Regions from separate parts of the Homo sapiens genome. Here regions 2 and 3 are each linked to region 1. The links come from fine-mapping of genetic effects on gene expression. A gene starts in region 1. Each other region holds a variant in brackets. All regions are shown on one strand. Distances are between the middles of the regions. Region 1 holds the start of SLC26A8 (solute carrier family 26 member 8). Region 2 overlaps SRPK1 (SRSF protein kinase 1). Region 3 overlaps MAPK14 (mitogen-activated protein kinase 14).

Evidence for each region.
Region 2: its variant is fine-mapped to the expression of SLC26A8 in whole blood (TOPMed, PIP 0.97).
Region 3: its variant is fine-mapped to the expression of SLC26A8 in whole blood (INTERVAL, PIP above 0.99).

The regions. Positions count from the first base shown.
Region 1 is chr6:36,017,965-36,029,091 of GRCh38, forward strand. It overlaps SLC26A8 (solute carrier family 26 member 8), which reads right to left and starts at 6,677. Exons shown (of 20, transcript NM_052961.4): 1 at 6,540-6,677; 2 at 1,556-1,745. The coding sequence starts at 1,743. MAPK14 (mitogen-activated protein kinase 14) reads left to right here and starts at 9,844. Exons shown (of 12, transcript NM_139012.3): 1 at 9,844-10,309. The coding sequence starts at 10,194. RefSeq lists enhancers at 6,122-6,623, 6,624-7,123, 9,455-9,894 and a silencer at 10,085-10,184.
Region 2 is chr6:35,868,127-35,879,253 of GRCh38, forward strand. SRPK1 (SRSF protein kinase 1) reads right to left here. Exons shown (of 16, transcript NM_003137.5): 7 at 6,107-6,213; 8 at 4,437-4,602; 9 at 2,808-2,833; 10 at 2,155-2,368; 11 at 1,356-1,775; 12 at 884-984. Among named protein-coding and RNA genes, the nearest start is that of SRPK1, 47 kb to the right of the region's middle. The variant G/T (reference allele first, on the strand shown) is at 7,282.
Region 3 is chr6:36,051,039-36,062,165 of GRCh38, forward strand. MAPK14 (mitogen-activated protein kinase 14) reads left to right here. Exons shown (of 12, transcript NM_139012.3): 2 at 1,661-1,790; 3 at 8,251-8,309. Among named protein-coding and RNA genes, the nearest start is that of MAPK14, 29 kb to the left of the region's middle. The variant C/T (reference allele first, on the strand shown) is at 5,592.

The DNA of each region.
Region 1 (11,127 bases):
ACAAAAAACCACGATGAGATATCATTTCATACCTAATAGGTTGGCTATAATTTAAAAAAATGGAAAATAACAAATGTTGGAGAGCACATGGAAAAATTGTACATTGCCAGTGAAAATGTAAAGTGGTGCAGCTACTGTGGAAAACAGTTTGGCAGTTCCTTAAAAAGTTAAATTTACCACAGATTTATGATGTGATTCAACAATTCTAGTCCTAGTTATAGGACTTCAAACAGATCTCCTGTGCCAATGTTCATGGCAGCATTATTTACAGTAGCCTAATGGCGGTAGAAACAACTCAAATGTCTGTTAACGAATGGATAAACAAAAATGTGGTATATAAATACAATGGAATATTATTCAGCCATAAAATGAAATGAAGTTCTAATACATGCTACAATATGGATGAATCTTGAAAACATTATGCTAAGTGAAAGAAGTCAGACACAAAAAGACAAACATATTGTATGATTCTACTTAAGTGAAATAGCTAGAATAGGCAAATTCATAGAGACAGAAAGCAGAAGAGAGGTTACTTGGGCTGAGGGGTGGGGAAATAGGGAATTATTGCTTAACAGAATTTCTGTTTGAGGTGATGAAAAAGTTTTGGAAATAGCGGTGATGGTTTCACAACATTGCGAATGTCAATCATGCCACTGAATTGTATATTTAAAAATGGTCAAAATAGCCAATTTTATGTTATACATATTTCACCACAATAAAAAACATTTAAAAAATTATTCTGAAAGATGTTGATTAACTTTATCAGACTGCTAGAAGGTTCAAAGCACAAAAACAGGGTAAGAGCCCCTGAACTGTAGGACCTAGCTAGTCACAGCGGGTATCAGAGGTGGTGGTGGTAGATTCTACCTTAGTGACCATGAGTACCACCATGTGGGCACTGTTGGATATGAGACTAGAAGAATCTCATTCCCCTACCATTAATCAGTCCACCATGGCTATCTTATTTATTTATTTTTTTTGAGACAGAGACTTGCTCTGTTGCCCAGGCTAGAGTGTAGTGGCACAATCTCGACCCACTACAACCTCCGCCTCCCAGGTTCAAGCAATTCTCATGCCTCAGCCTCTTGAGCAGCTGGAATTACAGCACGTGCCACCACGCCCAGCTAATTTTTGTATTTTTAGTAGAGACGGGGTTTCACCATGTTGCCCAGGTTGGTCTCAAATTCCTGGACTCAAGTGATCTGCCTGCCTTGGCCTCCTGAAGTGCTGGGATTACGGGCGTGAGCCATTGCGTCTTGCTGGCTATCTTATTTTTGGTCGGGAGTCTGGTAGTCATGGTTGATTGAACAATGGAATTATGAAATATCCTCCTTAGGTACCATAGGGACATCCAAGATCTTTATGCCCAGGAAGTTTACAATCGAAAAGGTACTGCAAGACAAACCACAAAAATGACTGAAGAAAAATTGCACAATAAACTGCATGATTCTGATTACAGGAACTCAGACAAGAAAGAGAAACGGACCCCAAAGGAGTCAGGTTAGGTTTCAGTCCTGCCCGGCTCGGCAGCAGGTGAAAGATTGGACACACGCACCGGCACTGGACGTGGTGTCTGAAGGTGGTGATGTTGATGTTCATGTTCCCAGAAGAGGAGGCCTTCCTTTTGTGTTCCTGTTGAAAGGTCTCCTCATTGTATACTTCACGCTTAACATCATATGCGAATGAGTTTCGCCTGGACTTAGAGCTGAAGCCAGAGATGGCGCTCCTCTCTAGTTGTGCCATTCCTGGATGAGTGGAAAGAGAGCAAATAAAAGAGCATTTTCAGTAATCCAGATCCTCGGCATATTTTTAAGGAAATAAAATTCCTATATAATAATGTTTTACACTTGCATAGCATCTTTCAGTTGTAAAAAACTCTTTCTCAAAGTTGTATAATTTTATGTGTATTCTTTTCATTTTTCAAATGGAGACAACAAAACCCAGAAGTTTAAACAGTCTTTGCTGTTTGATACTTATTAGAGCCAGGACTAGAACCCAGGTGTCCTGCTGGGAGGCCTAGTTTTCTTTATATTCAGTTGTGTTATGTTGTAGGAAAATGATCAAGAGGTGGACAGTATTAATCAACAATTTTCACTGAAAATGCTCACTATCCAGCATATATGAAGAAGTCCAGATGAAGGGTTAAGTGCTCAATACAAGTCTTGTAACTCCTCTAAAATAGCAGACATCATTATCCCTTTACCTTTTACTTTTCTTCACGGCACTTGCCAGCACCTGATTCATTATTTGTCTGTTTGTCCATTGTCTGTTTCCCCCATAAAATGTAAGACCAGGAAGCAGGACTGTGACTATTCACAGTTGCAGCCCCAGGACCCAAAAGAATGGCTTTCACTTAGCAACTTAGCAGGCCCTTAACAAGTGTTTCTTGAATGACTGCCAAGTATACAGTTAGTGGCCTCATGGTGTAGCAGAAAAAGCTATAGAAGTTCAAGACTAGACTAGGCAACATGGTGAAACCCTGTCTCTACTAAAAATAGAAACAAAATTAGCTGGGCATGATGGCATGGCATGTAGTCCTAGCTGCTCAGGAGGCTGAGGTGGGAGGATCACCTGAGCCCAGCAGGTGGAGGTTGCAGTGAGCTGGGATCGCACCACTGTACTCCAGCCTGGGTGTCAGAGCGAGACCCTGTCTCTAAAAGAAAAAAAAATCTATATTATCCTGCTTTTTTAAAAGATTGAAAAGATAGAGTAAATGAGGATGGATAGGGATCCATCTCTGGGAGAAAGTATAACCAGTCTTAATAATCTATGTTTTTGAACAATAAAAAAAGCATAAACTCTAAAATTCTTCCACATAAATGTAAAAAAGCATATGTATAAACCACATACCTATAAAATATATTGGTAAACCCTCAAATTATATAGATTACACAATTATATAGATGATGGGTGATGCTGCAGATAAGTTTAATGTGTCAGCAACTTTGTTTTCCTTCAGAAGAATCATCATCATCATCATTGCCAACATTTATTGGGCATTTATCCTATGCCATGCATTGCACTAGATTTCTTCACGAGTTATGTCATTAAATTTCCACAACAATACCAGTACTACTATTTCTTTCATTTTACAGGTGTAAAACCAAGATTTTAGAAAATGTAAGTAATTGGGCCATAATTATATATTGTATTTTTACCCTCAAAGCATTGGGTAGAAGTAATATGCTGTATAACAACCATGAACTAAAGATCACAAATTCTCTAAACCAGTGAGGTGACTGGGGAATACAGAAGAGGATGGGAGAGGTATTTTACAATATATTACTTAAGATAATTAGTGCCTCATGTCTCTTACAAAAAGAAAAAAAGGTAGAACTGTATATTGAAATGTAAGGAATCCCCCCCCACCTTTCTTTCCCCACCCATAGGAATACAGACCCAATCTTCCTTACTTTCCCCGTATAATTGTCCAATGTACTTCCATGAGTAGTCTCTTTGTTCCCAGCAACCTAAACAAGCCTAATTAGTCTGCTAATGACAAAACTGATATCCTGGGTCACATCGAGAGTCTAGAACCCAGCATTTTGTTCTGAAAGTGACATTAAAGGAGGATTGGTGTAAAATAGGCAAAATATGACCGTCAAGGAGTGGTGGGAACAGTGGGGCTGGCAAAGGCAGCAGAAGCTGCTTAGCTCTAGCCATTTTTGCCATCGGTCAATGTGGGGCCCGGAATGGCTTAGATCTGATCTTTTCCAGGAGAAGCCATAATGCCAGATTTTTATGTGGAATCTTCTGGCTTTTAAATGTTGTCAATTACTTTACATATGTTTACGTATACATATAAATATATATGTATATTATTTTATTTTATTTTTTGATATAGAGTCTCGCTCTGTCGCCCAGGCTGGAGTGCAGTGGCGTGATCTCAGCTCACAGGGTTTCACGGTGTTAGCCAGGATGGTCTTGATCTCCTGACCTCGTGATCTGCCTCCCTCGGCCTCCCAAAGTGCTGGGATTACACGCGTGAGCCACCGCGCCCGGCCTATTTTTTATTTTTTTGGAGATGGAGTACAGCTCTGTCACCCAGGCTGGAGTTCAGTGGCGCGATCTTAGCTCACTGCAACCTCCACCTCCCAGGTTCAAGCGATTCTCCTGCCTTGCCTCCTGAGTAGCTGGGATTACAGGCATGTGCCACCACATCTGGCTAATTTTTGTATTTTTGGTGGAGACAGGGTTTCGCCATGTTGGCCAGGCTGGTCTTGAATTCCCTACCTCAGGTGATCCTCCCGCCTCGGCCTCCCAAATTGCTGGGATTACAGGCGTGAGCCACTGCGCCTGGCCTATTTAAAGTCTTTCAGCAGAAGTAGTAATACGCACAGAGATGCATTTTGGGAAGATGAAATGTGCCAGTGTTATGTTCTAGAGCTGAGTTGTCCAGTATGGTAGCCACTGGCTACATGTGGCTATTTAAACTTAAAATAAAAAATTCAGATCCTCAATTATACTAGCTAGATTTCAAGTGCTCAACAGCCACATATGGCTAGTGGTTACCTTACTGGACAGTGCAGATATGCAGATATAAAAAATTTCCATCATCACAAAAAGTTGTTGGACAGTGGAGATAGGAGAGACTGAGGCAAAACAGCCAATTGGAGACCATTAATATTAGTCTAGGAGATGTTATCAAGTCATAAACTCCTACGACCACAGTGAGGATGGCTAGGAGGAGCAGGTGGAAAGTTGTCTTTAAGGAACTCCATCAAATGTCTGGCTAACAGCAGCAAGGGTAAACGCATGGTTTCCTTATTATTTTTTTTAAGTAATTTTCTTTGGAATTTCTCCAGCTCCATTATGTCTTTCTTGATTTCATAGAAATCCTAGTGGCTCATTTTCATGTACTAGCAGGACACTTCCCAAGAAGATGCAATGACCAGAAACTCCTACTGTTGAGTAGGCCCCACTTAGCAAGACCTACTGAATCAGAAACTCTGGGGGCCATCAGTCTGTTTTAAGAAGCTGTCCAGACTGCTGGGCCCCCAGAGATTCTGATTCAGTAGGTCTTGCTAGGTAGAAAAAAAGCAAAGAAGCTGTCCAGGTGATTCTGATAAAAATTAAAGTATGACTACCACTATAAATATAGTGGATTATCTTTCATGAGCCTTTCAGTGCTAAATTTGGGGGCCCTGTTAAAATACAAGCACTTTTGGCCTAGCTCTTTCACCCTCCATAGTACCCTTATCCATCCATCCATCCATCCATCCATCCATCCATCCATCCATCCATTTATCTAATTATTTACATTATCTGTGTTCAGAGTGCTTTAAAAGTAAAGAATAGGCCAGACATGGCTCAGTGGCTCATGCCTGTAATCCCAGCACTTTGGAAGGCCAAGGCGGTTGGATCAGCTGAGGTCAGGAGTTCAAGACCAGCCTGGCCAACATGGTGAAACCCCGTCTCTAATAAAAATACAAAAATTAGCCGAGCATGATGGCGTGCCTGTAGTCCTGGCTACTCAGGAGGGTGAGGCAGGAGAATCGCTTGAACCTAGGAGGCAGAGGTTGCAGTGAACCGAGATCAAACCACTGCATTCCAGCCTGGGCGACAGAGCAAGACTCTGTCTCAAAAAAAAAAAAAAAAAAAAAAGTCAAGAATAAAAAGTTTAAATACAATCCAATTTTTTAGCTATTGACCCAAATAATATGAAATCTTGAAAGCTAGTTTAGTTGCAGGAATATCTTCCCCCTGATATTGTTAACTTTCTTATGTTTTCTATAATCACGGAAAGGCAAAATTTACTTCCGAATTTTCAAAATAAGCATTTGTAATTCCATCAGAAACAACCCTACACCTGTTACTACCTAGGTTTTTATGGAGAATGTATTGGGAATACAGAAAAGGTATAAGCAAAGAGCCTGGCCTTTAGATCCTTTAGTCACTCTGGCTAGTGGCTAGGGATGACTAGTAAGATGACAGTCCTTAAGCGGATGACCATTGGACACATAAACATAGGACAACCACCTTCCATGCAATGTGGATAGAGTAACATGGTGTGTTGGAGAGATGCTCATTATTGGGGTGGGGGTGCTGGAGAAGGCTTCACGGGGCCCCTGACACATCAACGGCATTTGACATGAAAAGAAAGGGGCAAGGAGGTGGGGGTGGGGATTCAGTCACAGGGAACAAAATTAACAAAAGCAGTGGGGTCTGAAAGGAAGAGGAACGGCCGGGCAGTCAGGCCTCAGGAGGAAATGGATGGGGTAGGCGGTGGGGTGCAGGTAGCACGTCAGTTCTGGGGCTTTTGACAATATAGACAGGAGAATTTGAAAGGATGCAGCTTGCAAAACGCACACACTGTTGTCTCTTGTCATTGCCATCCACACGGCCTTTGAAAGTAGAGACAATACCTCAGAGATAAGCTCCCAGGGACGACCATCATTCATTCATTCCACAGATACTGACTGAGTGCCCACGGCGTGCCTGGCTCTGCGGCATACCTGGGTACCTGCCGGTGACGGACGCAGCCCCCGCCCTGGGACCTGCAGCCCCCGGCGCCCAGGCGTCTCCCAGCAGCGGCTCACCTGGCTCCTTGGCGGGGGCGGGAGTGCGGGCGCTGGGATCCCACACGGCTCTCGCCTGGCTGGCGGCGCTGCGGACGCGGATACCGGCGGCGGTTCCCGAGCCGTTGTGGCCTAGCCCGCGGGCGTTCCGGGCGGGCTGAGGAGATGAGAGTGGGGGAGGGGACGAGGAAGAGGAGCATGAGCAGCTGGGCTAGGGAGCCAGGAAAGTGGTACCTGGGTCGCCCTCCTCATACCTGAGTCGTGGGATCCCCTTGGTATTTGGTAAACCTGTATACCAAGGCTCCTTCTCTCTCCGAGGTTTTGCTATTCTTGATCGAGGGCCTATTTGGTGCCAGGCCTCGTGTCCTGAACATACAGCAGTGCACATGTGTCACATGTGTACTGCACAGACGGTAATTCACTAACGTCTCCGGAAGACTTAAGCCTTCCTCAGGTCAGAAGAGGTAAAAAGAAATGGAGGCTAGGAGGGTCACCCAGGTCTCCAACCATAGGCTGTCTGCCCCACAAACCCGGCTCTCCCCACTGAATGACACCCTCCTGCCCAGATCTGCTCTGGATGCAGACATGCCATCTGCACTCACTCCCTTTACCCTCCTCCCACCCTATCCCTGTCCCTAGCACTGTCTCTCACTCCACCTTGTATTCCTGCTTGGCCCAGTTACAGTTTTACACTTGTTTGTTTGATGACTGTGTTAATGTCTACCTTATAATGCACTTTATGTATTCCTTTTTGTAAATCATCTTACCCCTATGAGGGCAAGGACTTTTATCCCTTTCATTAACTGTTTTATTATCAGTGCCTACAGCAGTGTGGTGGACATAGGAAGTATTCAATTAATTTTTGTTGAATGATTGCCCTCCCATTGATTGTAAGCTCCACACCGGCAGCAACTGTAGTTTTTAATCACTTTTAAACTGCAAGTGTTTGACACCTAGTAGGCATTTAATACACATTGGTTGAATGAGTGTATGAATATACTGCTTACTTTATCTTTACCCTTTCATTCACCCTCACCTCATCATCCCAATTTGTAGGATAAAAATGTGCATTTCTGAGGATTCCTACTTCCAAGCTTCCTCCTCACCCTTTGTAACCATTCCCTCATTCCCTTGATCCCCCCAACCCCATCCCTCATGTCTTCACAATCATGTTTTTGCTCTTACTTCCCCTTCACCCTCCATTACTTCTTAGAAAGCTTCCTATCCTCCCTAGTTTGGAACATTCTCAAGCAACATGTTTTTGTAGATAAGAGAATTCCAGCCTAAGCTACATTGGATCCAAAACAGCTTTCCATGAATCACCCATGACTATCTGTTTTTTGGTTTTATATTGCTTTCCTTGAAGAGGACTGAGGATACTGTACCACTTGAAATCATGGTCACTGTTCATAATTTTTTCAACAAATATTTATGACACATGTTTTATGTTCTAGACATTGTGCTAGATGTTGGGACAAGATATGCAAAGTCTGAGCCCTCCAAGGTGTGTATGACACAAAATAGAATAATCACGGGAAATGTTGAGAAATGTCCTGGCTTGGATCTAGTTATTTCTAATACAAGAAACTAAGAGAATGAGACAGGATCTGATTCTTCTGCTCATTGTAACAAGCTTTAGCATAGGCATAGGTTGATAATGGATGTAGGCATGGGGTTAGAATGCCTTGCCCATTCACATTTATCTTGTTTGGTTTTTACAAATGACTCTGTTAGTCGGGAATGCAGGGCAGGAATTCTCTCGTAGAAGCTGGAACTGAGGTTCAGGAAAGGTCAGTTGACTTGCCTAAATTCGATGAGACTCCTGCCCTATTCTCCTTACTCGAAGAGGCCTGAGTTAAATGCTTAAAATCCTCTTCACTGATGGCTCTTCAGGATAGGAGTCAGTTTCAAATCTTCAGTGTAACGGTTTTTTAAATGCTTCTCAAAGGGAGATATCAGAGACTTTCCTGAATCAGAATCACCTAAGATGTATTATAAAAATGCATGCTCTTGATCAAGACCTCCTCTGACCTACCCAATTAGACTCCCTGTGAGTTCTGGGAACTTGCATCTTAAACTCCCAGGGTGATTTTTCTGCATGTAAGTTTAACTGGGAGAGTTTTAATGTAAAGCTTCGGTTTGTTTTTGTTTTTGTTTTTGTTTTTGAGACGGAGTCTCCCTCTGACGCCAGGCTGGAGTGCAGTGGCGCGATTTTAGCTCACTGCAACCTCCGCCTCCTGGATTCATGCAATTCTCCTGCCTCAGCCTCCCGAGAAGCTGGGACTACAGGGTCGTGCCACCACGCCCAGCTAATTTTTGTATTTTTTTTAGTAGAGACGAGGTTTCACCATGTTGGCCAGGATGGTCTCTATCGCTTGACCTCGTGATCCACCCGCCTCGGCCTCCCAAAGTGCTGGGATAACAGGTGTGAGCCACTGAGCCCAGCCCCTGGAAAGCCTCAGCTTTGATGCAGGGTTAACATTTGCCTTTGGGACATATTTCGTCAGCATCTCAAAGAGTAACCCATATGTCCTTGAGCAGATGGGAATGCAACAGCCTTCTGGCCGGAACCTGTCTCTTTCTTTCTTTCTTTCTTTTGAGACGGAGTTTCGCTCTTGTTGCCCAGGCTGGAGTGTAATGGCACGATCTCGGCTCACCGCAACTCCGCCTCCCGGGTTCAAGCGATTCTCCTGCCTCAGCCTCCCGAATAGCTAAGACTCCAGGTGCGCGCCACTACGCCCGGTTAATTTTGCATTTTTAGTAGAGACGGGGTTTCTCCATGTTGGTCAGGCTGGTCTCGAACTCCCGACCTCAGGTGATCCGCCCGCCTCGGCCTCCCAAAGTGCTGGGATTACAGGCGTGAGCCACCACGCCCGGCCACTTGTCTCTTTTTTATGCAAGTGTTTTTTGGAATTTGGGGGTTCAGGTGAGCAGGTGCTCTGCTGCTGGTAACTACTCGCAGTTAAAGATCTTTTGACTCTTTCCCCGACACGCTATTTGTCAGTGTCGTTTTCCACCACAGAGCCAGGTATTTGCCCCGCCGGCCACGGTGAGGCGCGCGAGGCGTGTGCTGCCAGCTTCTCTCTTCCTTCCCCGGTCCGCCTTCGCGCCCTTAAGGAGACAGTCCCTGGGAGTTTCTGCCTTTGGTCTCCAGTTATTGTTCTCTTCTCGCGAGAACTGCTCCTCCCATCCTCTTCTCTCACGAAGCCCCGCCCGCGGAGAGGTTCCATATTGGGTAAAATCTCGGCTCTCGGAGAGTCCCGGGAGCTGTTCTCGCGAGAGTACTGCGGGAGGCTCCCGTTTGCTGGCTCTTGGAACCGCGACCACTGGAGCCTTAGCGGGCGCAGCAGCTGGAACGGGAGTACTGCGACGCAGCCCGGAGTCGGCCTTGTAGGGGCGAAGGTGCAGGGAGATCGCGGCGGGCGCAGTCTTGAGCGCCGGAGCGCGTCCCTGCCCTTAGCGGGGCTTGCCCCAGTCGCAGGGGCACATCCAGCCGCTGCGGCTGACAGCAGCCGCGCGCGCGGGAGTCTGCGGGGTCGCGGCAGCCGCACCTGCGCGGGCGACCAGCGCAAGGTCCCCGCCCGGCTGGGCGGGCAGCAAGGGCCGGGGAGAGGGTGCGGGTGCAGGCGGGGGCCCCACAGGGCCACCTTCTTGCCCGGCGGCTGCCGCTGGAAAATGTCTCAGGAGAGGCCCACGTTCTACCGGCAGGAGCTGAACAAGACAATCTGGGAGGTGCCCGAGCGTTACCAGAACCTGTCTCCAGTGGGCTCTGGCGCCTATGGCTCTGTGTGGTGAGTGTCGCTGGGCCTGGGGCCGCTGTGGGCAGGGTGGCCCCTCGCGCCCGAGGGCCAGGCCTGCTCCACTGCTCAGCGTTGCGTCAAGTGGCAGGAATTTTCCTCGGGGGAGGGCATTGCTGCCCCTTCGAGCTCTGCCCGTTCTGCACCTCCAGCACCCCTCGCCCTGCACTCACGCAGGTATGCGGTCCACCGTGTGCAGCACTCAGGTCCGCTGCGAGAGGTAGGTGGTGGTGCTGGAGCTCGGTTCTGGCTAGCACCCTGCGCCTTCCCCTCTCGGAGGGTTGCTGCTCGGCAACAGGCACCGGGGGAAGGGCCGCTTCCTTGGGGGTCTCCCTGCCTACCTGGAGCAGAAGGACCCTCTCCCGTGATGCGCCCACGCTGGGGCTCCGGACCCTGGGTCCTCTGAGCAGACAAGCTCGGGGAACTGCCGGGAGAAGCAGAAGGGCACAGCCCAACCCGAAGACTGCGGTCATCTGAACAAAACTGACCAGGAAGGGAGCTCTCTCCGGGCCTTTTTTTTTTTTTTTTTTTTTCAAAACTCTGTCGAAATCCCATCTTGAAAAGCGTTCTTTTTGAATTCGCACTTGAATTAACAGCGATCCATAGAGCTTAAAATACCGACTTTATCTCGGTGAGCACTGTGCCAGCTTGAGTGGTGTGTTTCCGATTCGGTTGAAAGCGTATTTCCTTTCCGTGGAGGGGCGGCGGTGGTAGTGCCTGCAAGAACACTGCAGCTTGAGAAACTGGCAGGCTCACTGATTAGTCACATACCACTGCTCATTTAAGTATTGTTCGACAAAACAATTTTCTCA
Region 2 (11,127 bases), 150 kb before region 1:
CACGCCTGGCTAATTTTTTTGTATTTTTAGTAGAGACGGGATTTCTCCATGTGGTCAGGCTGGTCTCGAACTCCTGACCTCAGGTGATCTCATGTGATCCGCCAGCCTCCGCCTCCCAAAGTGCTGGGATTACAGGCATGAGCCACCGTGCCTGGCTAACTGAAGTATCCTTTCTAGAGTGTAATATGACACTATACATCAAAAAACATATAATTATTTCTAATTACATGTCATTACGAATAACTAAAAATAAGTTAAATGACACTATACATCATAAAGCCCTTTTAAAAATCACAGAACTTCTGACTTAGCAATTCTATGTCTAGGACATGTCCTAAGAAAAACTATACAAAGATTTGCGTGCAGAGTCTCATCACAAAGAGCTGTCAAAAATATGTAGATTAAAGTGTACTAGGGAAACAATGTAATGAACTGAATTGTATTTAAATTTCTGGCTGACAAAGCAAAGTGTCCAAAATATGTTAAGTGAATTAAAAGGAGGTTACAATTTATAAGTTAGTCATCAATTTTGAAAATGGGAGTAGGGGAGTATGAACATAGGCACTGAGTGTCTGAAAGTTAATAATGATATATATATTAAAAACAAGATTGGCCAGGAGTTGACATTACTGAATCTGGGTGATGGGTATCTGGAGTGGGGTGGGGTAACAGAAGGACTTTTCATGATCACGATTACCATTCTACTTTCGTAAGTATATTTAAACTTTTCCATAGTAAAAGGTTTTTTTAAATGTAAAAAAATATTCACTGAAGTGTTGTATCAATCTGGGTACAGAATTATGGATGTTTTGCATAACTAAGTCCAAATTCTCATTCATCCTCCCAGTCACTTCAAAACACCATTAAGGCAAGTTTAACTTACCACCCAACAAGCATTTCCAAGGTCAGCAATCTTCACCTTGAGCTTTTCTGCATTTTTTGGCTCAAGGGGATTAACAAGAAAATTTCCAGCCGTGGATTTTCCTACAGACAACAGGCATCATCAATAAGACTGTTCAATGAACAGAGAAATACTCAATGAGTAATAAAGCTCTCCAAGGTAAGAGTAATACAGTCAGCAATACCCAAGTGACAACTTACATTTTCTGAGACAAAAAGAGCACAGCAACGCCTTGAGTTTCCAGAATTAAAAACCTCTGCCCTCACAGCAACAAATGAAGTGCTGTGTACTCAGTACATGATGGATAAAGTTAGCTACAGATTACAATTTAAACGTAACTTAGACACACCTGTTGTAAAGCTATAGTTACAAAAACAATCATACTTTTAGTCTAGAAATCTGTGAATGTGTTGTGCAGGGAAGGAGTGTTGAGGAAGTATAGCTGCATAGGTACCTTTGTTGTCCAGTGGTCCGTTATGTTCTTGCTCTTGTTCATCTTCACAGGGTATCTCTGCCCGAATGCTTTCTTGAAGTTGGCTAATGTGTTGTTCACTGAATGACTGACCTACAGTTGAGGAAGACTGGCACACCATGGTGTCTGACACCTCAGATGTTATAGGTGTACAAGAGTCTGTTTCTTGAGATGTGCTGCTGTCTCCATTTTGGGAGCTTAGGAAACTAGATTCCTGATTCAAATTTTGGACATCACAGTCATTAGCATTATGTAGATCCTCTTTATGTCTCAATGTTTCATTATTACTGTTCTGAGTATAATTAATGACTTCAATCACTCCATTGCAATTAATTTCTGCTGCACCACCCTCTGTATCACGTTCCATAAGCGTTTGATCCTGGCCAATGGTACTTGACTCTTCTAAGGAACAAACGAACAAAAAAAGATATATGCATATGTGTGTGAGTGAAAGAACAGAAACATTTCTCACAAGATTAAAACATTTTCTAGAACTTATACTGAGTGACATAAAAACATGACTAAACATCTAAAACCTATTTCCGGAAGGGCCAAGATCTTACTTTTACCCAATTGTTAAATGAAATCTATGTTCCATTTCCTGAGAAAAGTTACAAATTACATTTAAATATTACCTGCCTAACATTTATGACAAGATCCATATTCTTATAAAGATACCCCCAGAGATGTGTTGTATGTATGAAACCACTGTATTATATAGCAATGATAAATTAACGTTAAAGTGTGTTGTACAGTAATTTTCGTGATGTTCTATTTATACCAAGTTTTTCTTGGGTCATTTTATTAGGTGGGTTCTCTTTCAAGGGTCTTTCAACAGGACTCTCTGATTCTTCTTGCTTGTTTGGTCTTTTTTGCCCAGGGCCCGACTCTTTCTCCATTTCCTCAATTTCCTGCATTCGCTTCTCTAGTAATTCTGCCTGGCGCTTCTGCTTCTTCTTCAATTTCTTCTTCTTATTCTTTGACATTTTGTCAGCCTGGGCGGAGATTACAAACAGATAAAGCCTTCAGGTGGCTAATTAATTACCCCCAGTTGGAGATAGTTGTTAACTTTAATTACTTCCTAATTAAATTTCACAAATCTTTCCCTAACATAGCACTTAAGTCTTTCATTAAATTAAAAGATGCGGGATACTCTTATAAACCCAAATAAAAACAGAATAAATAACAAAGTGTGGTCTTCTGAGCAGTCCGTGGGGTTGGTTTACATTCAGACAAACTCGAATTTTTTAGAGGCCTCACCAGTACAAATGTGATGAAGGTGCATGGGAATTTACTGGAGAAAATTATAGAAGCGCAGGAATTTTTTTTCCTTTTGGTTCTCAAACTTGAAACAAACTGTTACCATCCACAACAGAAGAACCCATGCCCATAGTCCATAGATCAAAATTAAATATAAAAACACCTTATACTTACTGGTTTAGGCTGGGGAGCAGTACTGACTGAAAAGAAAAGAAAACCAAGTAAGAATTCTGGCATTCATCAGGCAATATAAACTAAGGCTCAGATAAAACACTCTACCAGAATGAAAAGTCTTTCTTATGTAGTCTACATTGCAGAGAAAACTATTGTTTTTAAATGACTTAAGTAGAAGCTATATTATTACCATTTTTAAAGAAAATAATGAATAGAAATTGCCAAACTTAAAAAAAAGGGATAAATAAAATTCTTCCTCCCCAGGTAAACTAAAGTTGCTAAAAATCACCTATTTTCCATTCCCATGCACTGCTTAAAATAGAATGGGACAAGCAACAACCTCTTCACCTCAAATGCTACCCAGAATCTGTCAGTTTTAAAAGGGGAGTCTAGGTGACATCAAGAGCTATAGTAATTTGCTCTACAGCATGTCATGGATAACAGTGTAGCTTAGCTGGAAGGTAGGATCTTCAGTCTTCCTCTTTTTAAAATATTAGTATAATAACTGTGGTTAACAAAAAACACATAATAAAAATTTATACTCTAGATAAGTGTACATTCAGTGGTTTTAACACTATTCACACTGTTGTATAACAGGATCTGTAGAATGTTTTCATCTTGTAAAACAGAAACTACATCCATTTAACAACCAACTCCCCATTTCCCCCTTCTTTAGTCTTCCTTTTTAAAGAAGTGTATAACTAATAACTCAACTTGAGGATCAAGCAAGTTCCTAAAAAATGACACACTACTAAAACTAAAATCTGTATCTCAAAAGAAAAAAAATCATAAAGCAGCCTTTATTTATTTATTTAATTTTATGTCTTAGACAGGGTCTCACTTTGTTGCCTATGCTCGAGTGCAGTGGTACTATCACAACTCGTGGCAGCCTTGACTTCCTAGGCTCAAGCAATCATCCTGCCCCAGCCTCCTGAGTAAATGGACTACAGGCACGCATCACTATGCCTGGCTAATTTTTTTAATTTTTGTAGAGACAGGGTCTTACTGTGTTGCCTAGGCTGGTCTCAAACTTCTGGGCCCAAATCATCCACCCACCTCAACCTCCCAAAGTGTTGCGTTACAGGCATGAGCCACTGTGCCTGGTCCCGCAATTTATTTGGTATATAATATTGTGTGGCACACTACTAACTGCTTTACCATTTAATCCCAATAATTCGCAGTTGAGGGAAAATAAAGTAAAATAACTCAGCTAAGGTTTCTCAGTCTAGGATGAAGCCCAAATTCAAACCAAGTCTGTCTACTCCAGTGTTTAAACCTAAACTATTAATAGCAATGTTATCTTGTCCCTCTACAGACTACCAGTCCTATAAATGAGCATGTGTGATCACAGTTAGAGGTAAACACTTCAAAAATCATCAACTCATAAGAAAAAATATTTTTAAACAATACACACCAGCTTTTATAACATACAACACAAAGACACAATATCTAGTTTTCTCCTTCCCCTATGGAAGTAACAGTGAGAATGTCTCTTGGAAGCTGATAATGTTTCTTAAATATGTTATTGTTGAAATGGATTGAGTGGTGTTTAATTCCCTGGTAACAGAATAAAAATAGAAATTTCTTTTTAACTTCTAATGATAGCGAAGTCCCTAAAAGAAAATACACCTGCAGATCCGGAAGGCGGAGGAGCTCCAGATCGCTGCCATTCTGTTGCTTCTGCAGCCAGCCTCCGAATGTACTGCTCATTCACTGACAATAAGATGTTCTCTGGTTTAATGTCAGTGTGGATGATACGGCACTTGGTATGTAAATAATCAAGACCCTGTAACACCTGAATGGAAATAGAGTGGCAGACTTGCAAACACAAAATACAGGCTTTCTGGAGAAGTAAGAGATTATAACATGACATTAAAAAAAAAAAAAAGATATGATAGCGTTTTCTATAGAGAATAAAAGCACCTTTTAAAAAAGCACAAATAAACTTTCTCAGAAAGATTAAACTATGAAAAAGGCAAGAAATTATTTACAATAAAAAATTCTTCAATGTTTTACAAAGCTGATTCTATTTGGAGATATTCTTCAACTATGTACAATGCAAAGACTGAGAATAAACTTCAACACACACACACCCTCTAAGTGTTGTAATGTAGGTGCTGACAGACATTTAGATATCTTTAATTCAAATTTCCTCACTGAGGAAGAATTGAGGTCTCTTGCTGCCCAGTTTGGAGCTCTTTCCAGGACATATAATCCAAACAAATTTTTGCACCTTGAAGTATTAATATTTTCCTGATGGTAAAATCTATACTGTATATTGAAGGCTCTTTAGAAAATTAGAAAATGCCTATGAATCATGCTGTATAAAGAGATGGCAATAATCTGACATAGCAATTATCTATTCATGTAAAATTACTATTTGCAACCAGAACTTCTGGATAAGGGCTCCAATGTTCCCAAGTCAGGAACCTCAGCTTCCCTTTCTAATTATTATAGGAGGCAAACCTGGGGGAAAATGGTTATGCTAAAACATTTAAAAAGAGAATAAGCACAATAAATTCTAAAGGTTGAATGAAATATTTAATTTTAGCAATTAACTTTTTTTTTTTTTTTGAGATGGAGTCTTGCTCTGTCGCCCAGGCTGGAGCGCGGTGGCGCGATCTCAGCTCACTGCAACCTCCGCCTCCCGGGTTCAAGCGATTCTCCTGCCTCAGCCTGCCGAGTAGCTGGGATTATAGGCGCTTACCACCACACCCGGCTAATTTTTGTATTTTTAGTAGAGACGGGGTTTCGCACTGTTGGCCAGGCTGGTCTCGAGCTCCTGACCTCAGGTGATCTGCCCGCCTCGGCCTCCCAAAGTGCTGGGATTACAGGCGTGAGCCACCGCGCCCAGCCAATAACTTACTTTTTAAAACAAAGAATTTTAAAACAAAAATTCTTTTTTTTTTTTGAGACGGAGTCTCGCTCTGTCGCCCAGGCTGGAGTGCAGTGGTGTGATCTCGGCTCACCGCAAGCTCCGCCTCCTGGGTTCACGCCATTCTCCTGCCTCAGCCTCCCGAGTAGCTTGGGACTACAGGTGCCTGCCAAGACACCCGGCTAACTTTTTGTATTTTGAGTAGAGAGGAGGTTTCACCATGTTAGCCAGGATGGTCTTGATCTCCTGACCTCGTGATCTGCCCGCCTCGGCCTCCCAAAGTGCTGGGATTACAGGAATGAGCCACCACACCCGGCCTTAAAACAAAAATTCTATTGGAAAAAATAAAGTCCTGACACTTCAAGAATATTAAAAAATCACTACATAGTCAAGACTAAGATACTTGCTGATTCAAGATACATACTTGCTGAATAATTTTTTTGACACAAGGCAGTGGAAGCCCCTGATAATTGGATTTGATGATCCACTTGAGCAGATGATGCCCCAAAACTTCAAATACCATGCAGATATCTAGGAATTCATTAAGGAGGGAAAAAACGGCACAAAAGAAGAACACGGCAAGACAAGCTGTGAATTCCACCCTATTAAATGTTATGTATTATTTTCTTTCAGTATAAAAAGTTACAGAGCTTGAATGAATAAATATGTAGCTGTTAATATTCTAAAATTTCAAAGTCTAATGCTATAGTCAATGAAAGCATTCATGAAACATTAAATTGTGGGCGGCTGGCTTCATCAATATTATTATGTACATTAAAATACTCAATGGTAAAAGAAAAAGTGAAACCTACATATGCAAATAGTGAAAGAAAGCAGTAGGCTCAAGCCTCAAGCTGTTGATTAGCTTCAGGTAAATTAGTTTCTTCCCTAATATCAAAATTGGTGTCCAGGGTAAAAATTCCCACTCTCACAGCTTCAAAGCAAGGAAAAACAAATTATTCCTTAACTATAGAAGAGATGAATGTACAAGAAAGACTTAAACCTCAAAAACGTAAATGCCAACATTTTTTTTTAAATAGGAAACTTGCTTAATGCTCTGTATTTTACAAAACTAATCTTGATTCCAGTGCCACCATGTGTTGTCCTTATGTATGAACAACCTGATGACACCACACAGCAGGAATACTCTGAGTCTAAAATTGTGCAGGGCACTACAGAGATTTTAGTAGTATCTTGATGTCTTCCACCCCCACTGGCTTCTACATGCAAGTTAAGACATACATATATAGTAATGGTCTAGTGCTCAGACTTTAACATTCTCCATTAAAGGAAAGCCTGAGCTCCTTGGAAAAATGGCCAAATCCAAGGTAGGAAAAATAACAGGGTAAACTTGGAACACCTTGCTGTTCTAACAAATAAAAGAACCTGTCAGGAAGAAACAGGAACCATCTTGAAAAGGATGTCACCAGCCAACATGGAGACTTCTTTTTTTTTTTTTTTTTTGAGACAGAGTCTTGGCTCTGTTGCCCAGGCTGGAGTGCAGTGGCACTATCTCAGCTCACTGCAACCTCTGCCTCTCGGCACTACAGGTGTGTACCACCACGCTGGGCTAATTTTTGTATTTTTAGTACAGATGGG[G/T]TTTCACCATATTGGCCAGGCTGGTCTTGAACTCCTGACCTCATAATCTACCTGCCTTGGCCTCCCAAAGTGCTGGGATTACAAGCGTGAGCCACTGCGCCCGGCCAGACCACTATAAAGGATAAAATTATGAGTTAATATATGAATTAAAAACAGAACAAGTCCACACTGATCTGAAAGTAAGTGTGGAGGCAGGAGGAAGAGAAACATCTTCTTTAGAGAAGAAAGCCAAATAATAAATACATAAGGGATTACAGAAATAGAAAATCACCATTTTTACAATCACTATAGTATACTATTACTGATTCAGGTAAGAATCAGTGAATACTAAAACAACTATGTGAAAGACTGTCGGGAAAAAGGATTGTCACAGTGTCAAAATATCATTCCACAGATTGCTTATTAATTACAAAAAGAACAAAGTACCTTTACAACTGGGAAATCTGGAAGGCACTGCCTTAACCAAGTGATCAAACTTACTACCACCAATGATAAGCACAAATTCACACCATGTGCCTTCTAATGCAATATACTAATATGCATTCGAATGCATATTCTAATGCAATAATCCATGTACTATGCTTGACAAACACGGTTAACCTGAATTTAATCATGAGGAAACAATCAAACAAATCCAAACTAAGGTGGCATAAAACAACTAGCCTGGATTCTTAAATTAAAAAAAAAAAAAAAAAAAAAAGGCAATGTCATAAATGTTCCAAACTACGTAAGATTAAAAGCACATGACAACCACAAACACAGATCAAAATTACAGTAAGATAGCATCTCAAACTAATAAATGACTAAAATAAAAAAACTAAACATCACCAAATGTAGGTGAGGTTGTGGAACAATTAGAACTCTTGTATTATGCTAGTAGAAGTCTAAAATGGTACAAGCACTTTGGAAAACTGCTTGGCAAATTCTTAAATATAAAACCTATGACAGGTCGGGCATGGTGGCTCATGCCTGTAATCCTAGCACTTTGGGAGGCCGAGACAGATAGATCCCTTGAGCCCAGGAGTTCAAGAAGACCAGCCTGGGCAACAAGGTGAAACCCTGTCTCTACAAGAAAAATCCAAAAATTAGCCAAGTGTGGTGGCGTGTGCCTGTAGTCCCAGCTACTTAGGAGGCTGAGGTGAGAGGATCACCTGAGCCCAGGAGGTCAAGGCTGCAGTGAGCAGAGATCATGCCACGGCACTCCAGCCTGAGTGACACAGTGACACCCCGTCACAAAAACAACAAACAAAAAACCCCAGCACCTATCAAGTTTTCTGCTTTAGCCAAGATGGAGTAACAGGCACTGGACTTATCTTATTGAAAAAACAATACTCAAACAGACCAAATACAAAAACAACAGAAGACTCTGGACATCAGACAACAAGTACAGTGATCCCTGAAAAAAGGAAACAAGAGCTGAACCCTGGGATTGCCCCATCTTATTGCCTTGAGGCTTTCCAGGTAGACTCCACAAGTTGAATCAATGGGAGCTGAGAGTCTGGAGAGACCAAGGCAGCTATAATTCACTGAAAAAGGTACCAGAGAGAGGGGAGAGCTGCAGAAAGAGAGAAATTTGGAGATTTGCAGAGGGGGCCCGCCCCTTCAAGGATTCAGCAAAGCACATGTGTGTGAGGAAACTAGCAGAGGCAGAGAAGAAAAAACATCTTAAAGGATTATAGAGAACAATGCCCAGCATTCGCATAGGGCTTGGAACAGTGCCTGTTCCCAGCAAAGAGACTAGAAAAATTTAGTCACAGGGTATTGGGTAGGATATATTTGGGAAGGTCTTGCCTCAGTAGAGGGAATGATTAGATCTGGACTGAGCAATGCTTTGGATCCATCTAACAAATCATAAAAGTAAAATCTAAAAGGATAAAACACTTTCCAAGTAACATCACACCATCCCAGAACAAGGCTCAAGAAGATTTATAGAAATACAAAACATCCAGCAGCCAACAAGGTAAAACTTACAATGTGATTACCAGGTAGTAAAACATATCCAAAATTAAAATAATCGATCATGTGAAACTGACTTAGAACCATCACAGATGTTAGAATTAGACAAGGACAATAAATGGTTATTATAGTTGTATTCCATATGTTCAAAAAATTAAGTAGAGACATGAAAAGTATTTTTTAGAAGACTGAAAATGGGCCGGGTGCAGTGGCTCATGGCTGTAATCCCAGCACTTTGGGAGGCCGAGGTGGGCGGATCACGAGGTCAGGAGTTTGAGACCAGCCTGACCAATATGGTGAAACTCCATCTCTACTAAAAATACAAAAAAACTAGCCAGGCATGGTGGCGCGTGCCTGTAGTCCCAGCTACTTAGGAGGCTAAGGCAGGAGAATCACTTGAACCCAGGAGGCGGAGGTTGCAGTGAGCAACCACTGCACCACTGCACTCCACTGCACTCCTGCACCACTGACTCCGTCTCAAAAAAAAAAAAAAGACTTGAAAATGAACTTCCAGAGACAAAAAGTGCAATGTGAGAGATCAAAACACACTGGATGGAACAAATGGCAGATTAGATTTTGTAGAATAAAAAGATTAGTGAATTTGATGGCACAGCAACAGAATTAGTCCAAAATAAAACAATTTGGAAAAATAATCCAAACAAACAAATCCACACATCCACAAAAGCAAGCTTTGGGGGCAACTCAAATAGTGACCTCCAAAAAGGGAAGACAGGAAGGAGGTGAAAGTATGTGCTTTTTGCAATGAATCAACAAATCATAAAGGTAAAGATTCACCCAGTAGCAAAGCATACCCCTAAGTGCTTAGATTCTGGATGTCATTTCCCACTGAATGGAATTAGGGCTTCTTAGAGAAAAACTGATTCTAGATTTAAGACAGGAAATTCACAAGGTGAGCCTGCAATATCTTGATGCCAGGTAATAAACTGCCAAAATGTCATACAGATCCTGACTCAAGTAAGAATCGTAAACTAGAGAAGAGTCTGAGAAGATGGTGGAGTAAGAAGCCACCAGAAATCTGTTTCCCCACCTAGACAACCAATGCATTGGCAGAATCTGTCTAATGTGATTCTTAAGAAACTCTGGAGTCTACTGAGGGCTCACAACTTCCCGAAGAAGAGGCTTGGATAATAATTATTGTAAATGTTGGTCAATTTCAGCTCTTAGCACAGTGGCAACCACCTATCCCCTAATCCTATAGCAAGCAGCCCTGCACACAGTTTGTTGGAGCCATGGTGGGCAAAAAGGATCCTGCCCCAAGTATCAGAGTCGGGTGGCCATTTTTGTAACCCCCCTCCATTGTTTTAAGCCCCTCTTCTGGCTCAAGTGATCTTGCAAAGATTTAAAGGGCCAGTGCCCTATTTCCTCTCCTTCAATTTCTTTCTTTTTCCCCTTTGGGAGCCAGACATTAAGACTAGGACATTTACGGCCAGGCACAGTAGCTCACACCTGTAATCCCAGCACTTTGGGAGGCCAAAGTGGGCAGATCACTTGAGGCCAGGAGTTCGAGACCAGCCTGGCAAACATGGTGAAACGCTGTCTCTATTAAAATTACGAAAATTAGCCAGGTGTGGTGGCATGCACCTGTAATCCCAGCTACATGGGAGGCTGAGGCAGGAGAATCACTTAAACCCAGGAGGCGGAGGTTGCACTGAGCTGAGACTGTGCCACTGCACTCTAGCCTGTGTGACAGAGACTCTTGTCTCTAAATAAATAAATAGACTAGGACATTCAAAAGCAACTGCATATAGAGGGAAAATCAGAAAGTGACTGCGCATGCCCAGGAAAAGATGCAGACTGAGCAAAGACCTTTCGTTTACATCTCAGGCTGATCCTTGGAAGAGAAAGACTACATAAGAAAAACAAATACAA
Region 3 (11,127 bases), 33 kb after region 1:
CTTGGATACATGTTAGAGACTGAGACAAACTGGAGGATGAGGCATAATGGAACTGGCCCAGACAATTTCTGTTATTACTATTTTTTTTTTTTTTTGAGACCGAGTTTCACTCTTATTGCCAGGCTGGAGTGCGATGGTGCAATCTCAGCTCACTGCAACCTCCGCCTCCTGGGATCAAGTGATTCTCCTGCCTCAGCCTCCTGAGTAGCTGGGATTACAGGCACCTGCCACTGCGCCTAATTTTGTATTTTTAGTAGAGATGGGGTTTCACCATCTTGGTCAGACTGGTCTCGAGCTCCTGACCTCGTGATCCTCCCGCCTCGGCCTCCCAAGGTGCTGGATTACAGGCATGAGCCACTGTGCCTGGCGACGATTTCTAAAAATAATTAAAATACACATCGCATTTTTGCTATAGATGTCCTCCATGATCTAGCTGCTGCCTGCATCTCTTACGTCATCCCTTCCCACTCTCCCCTTGCTCCCTGTGCTCTACCCACACAGCCTTTCTGTCTTTCTGTCACTCACTCCAGCATGCCATACGTTTCCTACCTCTGTTTCTTTTTTCGTTTGTTTGCACTTGCTCTTCTGAGAGATAGCAGAGTCAAGTGGTCAGTAGCATAAGCTCTGGATCCAGACTCCCTGCTCTGCCGCTTTTAAGCTTTGTGACCGTGGTCAAGTTACCTAACTTCTCTCTGCTTCAGTTTCTTACTTGTAAGTGGGAGAATGATAATAGTACTTATTTCATAGGGGATTCGGGGAAATACAAAAGCTGAATTGAGACAAATAAATGTAAAGGGCTTAGAACAATTTCTTGTATGTGTGGGTAAAGACTCTATAAACATTAATATTATTATTATTTCTTCTGCTTGAAGCTCTTTTTCTTATATATTTATATAGGGAATTTAATCATTATATTGTTTCCTTCTCAGCTCAGATGTCATTCCTCAGCCATCCTAGCTAAAGTGGTATAACTCCACTGGCTTTCTGTCACTCTTTATCCCATTACCCTTTTATTTAGTCATAGTATTTTCATCACTACTTGAAATTATTTTATTATTCTGTTCTGCTCTTCCCCCATTCCCTGAAGGTGCCAAGTACTTTGTAGGTGCTCAAGAAATATTTGTGGCAATTTATTGTCCTGAAAACATGGTTTCCTGGGCCTCGACTCTGAGCAGGCAGCAGATGTGGCAAGGTGACGACAGTGAGGCCTAGGCAGGGAAGACAGAATTCAACTCTGTTTATTAATCTGTTGGCTCATCTAGATCAGGCAGCTGCCAGTTTTTGTAAATTTTATTAGAACACAGCCACACCCATTTTAAAACTTATTTTCTGGCTGCTTTCCTCATACAACCACAGAGTTGAGTAGTTGTGACAGAGGTCTTACTTACAAAGTTGAAAATATTACTATCTGGCCCTTCATTGAAAAAAATTTGCTGACTTCTGATTTAGATACATAGAAAAGACAAGGAGAAAACACCAAAAATAATAACAGAAGCTTTATTTGGATAATGGGATAATAGGTCATTTTGCTTTTTATCTTTATGCTTTTTTTTGGTATTTTGTTATAGACCCTTTAATTTGGAAATAGCCTTATAAATACCCCAAAATAATATTTAGAACAGCTTTTTAATGGTGGGTTTTTTCCCTTTTTTCTCCTTAGTGCTGCTTTTGACACAAAAACGGGGTTACGTGTGGCAGTGAAGAAGCTCTCCAGACCATTTCAGTCCATCATTCATGCGAAAAGAACCTACAGAGAACTGCGGTTACTTAAACATATGAAACATGAAAATGTAAGTTATTCATTCAAGGAAGAATACATTTTGATCTTGAATAGACTGGGGAAAAATGTTTTAATTACTGCAGATGGAAATACGCTGGAGTGCATCAAACGTTGGTCCCTGCTCCTTGTCCTGGGGTGTTAGTGGCCACTTGGTTATGTCAGGTCAAAGACTTGGAATGAAAGTGATGCATCTTCCTGGAGTTTTAGTTTTACTCAAAGATTTTTAGAGGAGAAAGAACTCTTTAAAATTTTAAAATTAAAGGATATGTTATGAAATACAACACAAAATTCACAATAATTTTTAAGAGAAAATATTAAAAAGAAGTTATGTATTCTTTGCCTGGTTTTCCTAAGGCTATATTATGAGAATATGGGAGTCTGTGGCTATTAAAAGACAAAATAGCCACAGACTCCCATATTCTCATAATATAGCCTTAATATTTTTAAGTGGAAAAATCTGAGAAAGAGTGCCTTAGGCTCACTGAAAGTCCTATCAGAGATGGCTATTATTTTATATATTTGTTAATAATTTTTCTTTTTTTCCAGATTCACGTATTTTAATAAATATGTCAGAGGCATTGTTTAAGTTAAATATAACTTTTTCTTTTTTACCAATTTGTTGATTCAGTTGCCATTCTGCAAAGATGCTTACAAATTCTAATACGATAAATAAGTGGATATAATTGGAATACTAACTGAAAGTAAAAAGACAGTTGACTGAAGACACTTATTTTACTGAATTTCAAAATCAAGTTATGAATTTCTGTGACTGCTATATGAAGGGTACTGTGAAGTTTGTAGCATTGTGGAAACAATGGCCATAGAGATTTCAAAGTCCTCTGGCTGTACTGCTTGTTACCTTGTGGAAGAAAATTCAAAATCTGTGAATTTATTATTTGACTATTTAGACTGTTTTAGTAATTTAACTTCTTCATAGCGAGAAAAAAGTCACAGATAAGTGACTCTTCATTAGCGTACATTTGTTTCATTAGTGCAAATTTCTTCTAAATTGAGAACATTAAGACTTAAATTTGTAATTGGATTATGGATGCCATTATAATCACAGCTGCTGCTTTTTATTTTCACATTTTATTTTGATTGTATGCTATTGAGGAAATCCTATTTCTACAGACAACTTCTATTCCTGAGTATAATTTTACTTAAGTAGCTATGTGCAAACCAGAGTTTTAAGAATGTTCAGTGTGAAGCTGCAGCCTTCCTAATCAGTGACATGTTTACAAGAAGTTGAGATATGCGGAAAAAGCTGGCAGCAGAAACTTTATTCCTAGGTCTGCATAAAATCAAAGTGGCCTGGCAGCTTTAAGGGATGTGTTTGCGTTTGATTTTTAACACATTTAAGTGTGTATGCTGTTTTTCATTACACATTATTATATGTGACAGAGACAGTGTCACAGCTTTGCAAGTATAAAGGATATTTTGAAAGTGAAATGCAAGCCAAACATTTATGGAACCCCAGAGCACCTTTGGGAGCCACTAGGATCCTATTGATGTGGCTATGCTAATTTAAGAACATCTGGTTTAGGAGATTATCAGTGCTACACTGATTGTTTTGCTTTTCTTCATAAATATGTTAAGCCAATGTTTAGGGATCATGGTATTAGAAAAATAGGATTTTAATTTCTATACATTGTTTTATAAGTGGCTTGCTTACTAGCAGTCTTTTTTTTATATAAAGATGTTTAAGTTCTAACAGTTGGTGGTCACCTAGATATCAGTGATTTGTTATTTAAACAAAATAAGGCACATGGCTGAATGTCTCATAGTTCTCTATTCCATTGGCAAATGTTTGAAGCCAAAAGACTTGACTCAATGTAGAAAAATTCCTGCATTTTAGCCTATTTTGAAAACATTTGTTAGGTGCTTATAATGTCAAAGTAGTTTTACCCAATAAAGAACCAAAACTTCCGGTAAGTTTAATTGAGGGTTTTCAGAGAAATTCATCTCGTTTACCCTCCTCTTCTTTTTTAAAAAATTACTGTTTTGGGTCACCATCCAATTTTTATAGCGGCCAAACCTCCCACAGGCAGCAGCAACAGGCGCTTAAAACTTGTGAACATTTTAGGTGTTGGTAACAAATACAATTTTCAGGTGCCAGAGGGCACATGTGATCTTTTACACAAAAATGCCTCTGACCCACAATCGGTAGTTCATCTTGAATTGTCTCTTCTGTTAGTGATCATGAATAATAGATAAACATTTATTAGGTGAGTGACTGAAGCTAGGGGATGTCCTCTGTGACTGTGAGAGTTTCTCTCTGAACAAAGTTAGTTGGACCATTCCTGATTGAACTTCTGACCTTGATCTCGTTAACACCTGCTCTAAGGAAAGATTAAAGGGAGGCAGCCTGCCAGCTGCATCCTTTGCTGTCTGGGCAGACACTACAGAGATGGCCCATATATGGGCCTAGAGATCTGTACATTTTAGAATTTAAAAATGATCAAGGAAATTGTTTTGTAAATTTTATTTGGGAGCCTTAGATTTAACCTTACCATTGTAGACCAAGAGATTGTTTTGGTGTGCTTTTGTTAAATATGCTAAATATTGTCTCTGGATACTGAGTTAAAGTATTTTTTTTTGGATGTGTGCTAATTTAATAAAAATACGACTTAATATTTGCCAGGCTTTGGACCATGATGGGATAATCATTAGAGATATTTGCTGCTTATTTGTATTATGAATGTCTTTTCTAAAAATTTGATTCCTGGGTTACTTTGAGGTGACTGAAGTCATGTAACAGCAGAAGGAGTTAAGGAAATAGACTAAAATATGACTTGATTTAGAAGGGAATTTCCATTTAAGAAATGAGAAATGGCTGGGCGCAGTGGCTCATGCCTGTAATCCTAGCACTTTGGGAGGCCAAGGTGGGTGGATTGCTTGAACCCAGAAGTTTGAGACCAGCCTGGGCAACATGGCAAAAACCAGTCTCTATTATTATATTAAAAAAAAAAAAAAGAAATGAGAAATGAATAGATTCCTAAAATATTTTCCAGATCTATTTTAATGCTGATAAGCTTTTGTTTTACAGTATTTTCCTTATGATTAATATTCATAAGTATGATTAATGGAGTGAGGGATATTTTGTAAAAACCCATCAAAAATTTAAGTACTTTGATTTAGCATGGGTAGTTTTAATCTCAAAATTGTTATTTTCGGTGTGCTTATGTTAAACACATTAAATATTGTAAATATTGCCCTTTTTAGGAAATTAAAATTTGGTAGGGTATTTACTAGTTGGCTTTTCTCTATTTTTTTTCAGGTTACTTTATTTTTCTTCTTGCAGTCATGGTTTTTAATCATTTGAATAGTTGAGCTTTATGTCTCATATTCTGTTAATGGAAGTAGCTGCTTCAGATAGTTTGCTTAGGTATATTGTATTTTGTAATTGTCTATTCAACTGTGTGGGCTGTGGTCACCACTTATTTTGATGATCCACAGTGGGTCAGCCTTTTGTACTAGGCACCTTCAGATACATTGTCTGCTCAGTCTTGCTGTCAGTACTGTGAAAATAAGCAATGATGTCCTCATGTTTTTCATATGAGGAAAATGGGACTCAGAGAAGATACCAAATGTATTTGCCAATTATTATTTACATAACAGCCATTCATTGAACTCCTGCTGAATGCCAGGCTCCATTCCAAGTGCCAGCGTTATTGGAATGAAGAAATTATAAGCTCTTGGACCCAAGAAATCACAAACTGATACTGGGGTTCAAACTTACAGCTGCTTGGTTCCAAAATGTCTGTTGTGTTTTCAGTTTGAAATTGGAGTTTTTATTTGAAAATAGTTTTGA[C/T]TTTTGTCTTTTGAGGTAACTCTTGCATGTGTAAATCAGATCTCTAATGATTTAGTTTTATTTCCATAGGAGGATTTTCACAATCACAATGGAAACACTGTAAAACAATGTAAATAGTTTTAAACTTTTCTATTGTTTTGAGGAGATGGGCATCTCAGATAACAAGAATCATTGATTAGAAAATATTGGAACGGTGAATAAAGTTAGCTTCTAGACCTCAGTTACCTTAAGTAGAAGTGGGTATAAGGGAGAGTGATTAAAAGACCAGAGGTCTTAAGCCAGGAGTATACCAAACTCAAGGGAAACGATTATGGTTTAGATGGAGAAGGTAAAAGGAAATGGATTTGACTTAAATTTAAAGCACTATTGTGAATGAGGTCACAGGTACTCTATTGGGAGGCATGTAAGTTGGCCTTACCTCTATGGAGGACCATTTGACAATATTAAGATCCTTAAATATATTGGTGTCCTTTGATTCTGTAATTCTGTTTCTTGAAATTTATTTCCTGGAAGAAAATATGAGATGTGCAAAATACATATATTTTTCTTGCAGTATTCCTTAAATGTCTAGAGATAGGAAATTGGTTAAGTTATGGTATACACAAATGATAGATATGCTGTATACAAATATTTAAATATTAAGTAAAAAGGCAGGATATAAAACTATGCATGGTGTAACCCCAATTTAATTTATGTACATCAGAAAATCAAAGGAAATATATCTCAAAATGTTAATGATAGTTATAATGGGTGGTATAATTATGGGTAATTTTGGTTTTCTTATGTACTGTTGTCTGGGTAAGATCTGAAAGTGATTCTATTTCCTTTGGAACAATTTTCAAGGACTTGAAACCTATTCTTGAATTCCAAGTATGTGTCCCACCACCTCCTTTTCAGGTTCAGACTGTAAAATTAAAGTTGCTTTTAAAAAGTGACATTTGGAGTCGGGCGTGGTGGTGCATGCCTGTTATCCCAGCTACTCGGGAGGCTGAGGCAGGAGAATCACTTATACCCAGGAGGCAGAGGTTGCAGTGAGCTGAGATTGTGCCATGCACTCCAGCCTGGGCAACAGGAGCGAAACTCTGTCTCAAAGAAAAAAAAAAAAGTCTGATATTTGGATGAGTGGAGTAACATCCTAATTAGAAGATCTTTTTCATGATAATGTTTTGAGTGTTAACATATCTTACTTCTAGAGCTTTGTGTTTAAGTTGGCAGTTTAGAACAGTGTGCTAGTGAGGCCACAGTCTTGCTTCATAACCAGATACTCTCAAATATGGCTGGGCGTATTACAAATGAATTATATATTTCTTATTTGCCTTGTCAATGCCTAACTTTGTAGAAATGAATGGCCTGGGTTTTAAGGAAAATAGATGGGAGGTAGGGGTTGGAGGGTGCTGTATGTGGATAAATCAGTATAAATTCCTGATCAGAAAAACTGCTCAAAGACCATGGGTTATTGAGTATTAAGTAGCTCTTTGCTTTATCCCTGTGTAAAAATAGACTTTTTTTTTCATTTTTAAATTGTCTGATTTAAATACCCTATACATTAAGACTTTGTGAGAATAATACCAAGAATATACTGAGAATATTTTGAGACTTTAAAAATGTCAGTTTTGAAGCATATACAGTTAATATGGAAATTTTTCGTGGAATACATTTTTAAAAAACACAATATTACGGTAACAACCATGGATGTGTGACCTTTTTCACCTGTTGGATTAATTCATTAGACCATTAGTACATACGTAAGGCAAGGACCCTAAATCTTTTTGCCTTCTGATAAACTACTGACTACATATGAATAAATTCTAAAGAGATGAAGATTTTTAATGGTAAAGTGGGTTAATATGAGAATTGATGTTAACAAGTAGAAAACAAAAGCATAATTTGGGTAGAAAATTAGTTGGAGTTATTAAGTATATGATGTGATGTTATGGAACTGAGGTAGCTGGTTTTGAATTAGTTCCTATTAAAATGATTGAGACGTGGCTGGCCGTGGTGGCTCACTGCTGTAATGCCAGCACTTTGGGATGCTGAAGTGGGAGGATCGCTTGAGGCCAGAAGGTCAAGACCAGCCTGGGCAATCTAGTGAGACACATCTGTACAAAAAAAGAAAAATTAGCTAGGCATGGTGGTGGCACGTGCTTATAGTCCCAGCTACTTGGGAGGCTGAGACAGGATTGCTTGAGCTGCAGTGAACTGTGATGGTGTCACTGTACTCTAGCTTGTGTGTCAAGAGTGAGATCCTGACTCTTTTTTTTTTTTTTTTGAGACAGAGTCTCACTCTGCACCTGCACTCTCCCAGGCTGGAGTGCAGTGGCGCAATCTCGGGTCACTGCAACCTCCGCTTCCCAGGTTCAATCAGTTCTCCTGCCTCAGCCTCCCGAGTAGCTGGGATTACAGGCGCCCGCCACCACACCTGGCTAATGTTTGTATTTTTAGTAGAGACAGGGTTTTACCATGTTGGCCAGGCTGGTCTCGAACTCCTGACTTCAGGTGATCCGCCCGCCTCGGCCTCCCAAAGTGTTGGGATTACAGGCGTGAGCCACTGCTCCCGGCCTAGACCCTGACTCTTTAAAAAAAAAGAAGATTAAGACCTGATGGGTACTATACTGAGTTTAATATTTATTTACTTTTTAATTTTTATATTTTCTTACAGGTGATTGGTCTGTTGGACGTTTTTACACCTGCAAGGTCTCTGGAGGAATTCAATGATGTGTGAGTAAATTTTTTGCATTTGCCTTCCTGGTCTACAGAATGAAGACTAATAGCCCATTTCTATTCCTGAACCATTTAGCAACATATAGACTTCAAAAAATTCTTTATTCCTATCATGCACCTCTTTTTGGGTGTAGGGATGGATACCAGAAGATGTATGTTATGGGTGGTGCGTGTTAGTATTTACATCATTTCAGGCACATTGTACCCCATTGAAGAGTCAGTCTTGAATTCTTACAAAAGTTCCATGGAGAAAGGAGTGGAGAGAGTTTTGACTATGGATTTTCTTTTCAAAGTGTTTATCCCAGGTTTGGTTTTGTTGTTGTTGTTGTTGTTGTTGTTTTTGTTTTAAAAGACACGGGGTCTTGTGATATTGCCCAGGCTGGACTCAAGCTCCTGGGCTGTAGTGATCCTCCCACCTCAGCCTCCTGAGGAGCTGGAACTACAGGCACATGCTACCATGCCTGGCCGATCCCAACTTTTAAAGGTGCTCTTCAAGAAATGTAACGGATCCCCAGCCATATAGACTCCCTCCTCTTTTATCGCCCATGCATGTGGGAGATGATACTAGAACTACATGCTGATCCTTGAAGTATTAGATTTCTATACTGGGATAAGGGGCAGACTCTACCTGTTGAGAAAGGCTTCTTCTCTCAGCTTTGTAACCACCTCTGTTGTTTTAGCCTGGGATACCCCTAGAAAGCAGAGCCTGGGATTCTCAGGAACCAGTAGTGGGGGGCTAGGGAAAATGAAACAGGAAAGGAGAGAAAGCTTCTATGAGTATATGTTGAGTTGGTCACCACTATGGACAATTGGGCTGAAAACTGCCAAGATCTAAGAAGCTGTACGTAATGCACCTCAGATGGGGATCATTAATACACTGGCTCCTGACCCCATTGGCAAGGGTTGCCACGTATGTCATTAGTGCCTTCACATGCCCAGGTTGCACATTGGTGGGCCATAAGACAGATTCCAGCAAGTGTTCCCATGTATGTGTGAACTCTCTACTATAGTAGCTTTTCTAGTATCTGAGTTGACACAGCTCTCCCTGCCCCCAGTTCACATATACACTATACCATGAAAGAGAAAAAAACCTTAAACACAGTTATACTTTTGGTCACATTGAAATTTTGGCATTCCTAAATGGAGAGTGTTACTATTATGAAAGCCAAAACAGAACTGAAGATCGTGACTTCTCTTCCTTAACCTCCATTCCCCCATTGACCCCAGGGCTGAACCTAACCAGTTTCTCCTCACCCTTATCCTGGTTTCAGTTTCTCCCATTCTTATCCTGGGCTGATTGCAAACACCGTTTACTCCTTCCCCACAGAACACAAAGGGGATATGTTTGAACTTCTATGTTCTGTCTAAGGAAAGGGAGAAAGAAATAAAGAAGATGAAATGGAAAGGGAAGGAGGAAAGGTGGCAAAAACATTTCTCCACCATTTGAATTTAGTTGGAACAGTGTATGGCTGAGAGTAGAAGAGTAGAAGTTAAGAGAGGAGAATTTGGTCCACCTACAAGATCTCCTTGGCTACATTAACCTTGATCCTGCTAATGAAAGTTTAAGAAACAAAGGAAAAAAATAGCCAATAACTAAGAAAAATTGTTCTTCTCGCAGCCCTGCTTGATACAACAATATGGAGGCTTCCAGAGATTACTGGATGTTACTCAGGGGCATGTATATTACAGTTTGTTGAGCCCTACTGTATGCTATAGTTGGAAAAGGGAATGTTACAGAATGATGGTTTTTAAAAATAGTTTTCCTAAATGTAGAAGAAATGCTGAAGTAATGTGTTTGTGAATTACTTTGGAAAACATTTGAGTTAGATCTGAGCTGTATCCCAAAATTTTAGGTATACTAAGGATGGATTTATATAACAAAGGAAATGATTTGCTGACTTGTGCAAAGTGCAAAATGCTGTATTTTGGCCTAATTGGGCATTCTGGAACCGGATTAAGAACCTATTTTTCCTATGTGAAAAGACCTTAATTAAGGCCAGTGTCTATTTAGAAGGTTAAGTGTTACTGATAGTGGTGCCTTTGTTTGGCTCCTTCATCCATGTAAGGACCCAGCAACTACAAATCTACCTTTGAACTAAGGTTTCATTCATTCATTCAACCATTCATTCATTCATTTATTCAATAAATACTATGGCTGTTGAGCAGGAATCCGTTCTTTCTATTTAACTCTAGCTGGATACTGTTTTTTATAAACAATAACTGAGTTTACCTCTTGGAAGCAAATCTCATTACTACTTGTTGACTACTTACTGAATGCAGAACACTGAGCAGAGTGTTAGCACAGGCTCAGAATAATCAGAAACAGTCGCCCTTCCTTTTGATGAAAGTGTCTGGTTGGGGGAAACGAATTCAAAGCACTTTTGTATCCAAGCTACCAATTGGCCATATGACCTTGGACAAGTCACTTTACCACTGTAGGCCCAGTCATTTCACTGTAAAATGATGAGAATTGAGGTCGTTGACTTCTGAAGTGTTTTAAATTACAGAAAGTCTCTGAAAATAGAATGAACTTGTTTGCCCTAAGAAAAATATTCCATTGTTTACTTTTTATTGTGATGTTCATATCACTGAAAAAATCACTGTAGTTCGACTATAGTTATTTCAGTGTTTTCTTTTTTTTTGAGACAGCGTCTTGCCCTGTTGTCACCCAGGTTGGAGTGCAGTGGCAAGATCTTGGCTCACTGCCACCTCTGCCTCCCAGCTCATGCAATCCTCCCACCTCAGTCCCCCAAGTAGCTGGGACTGCAGGAATGGGCCACCATGTCCAGCTAATTTTTGTATTTTTGGTAGAGAC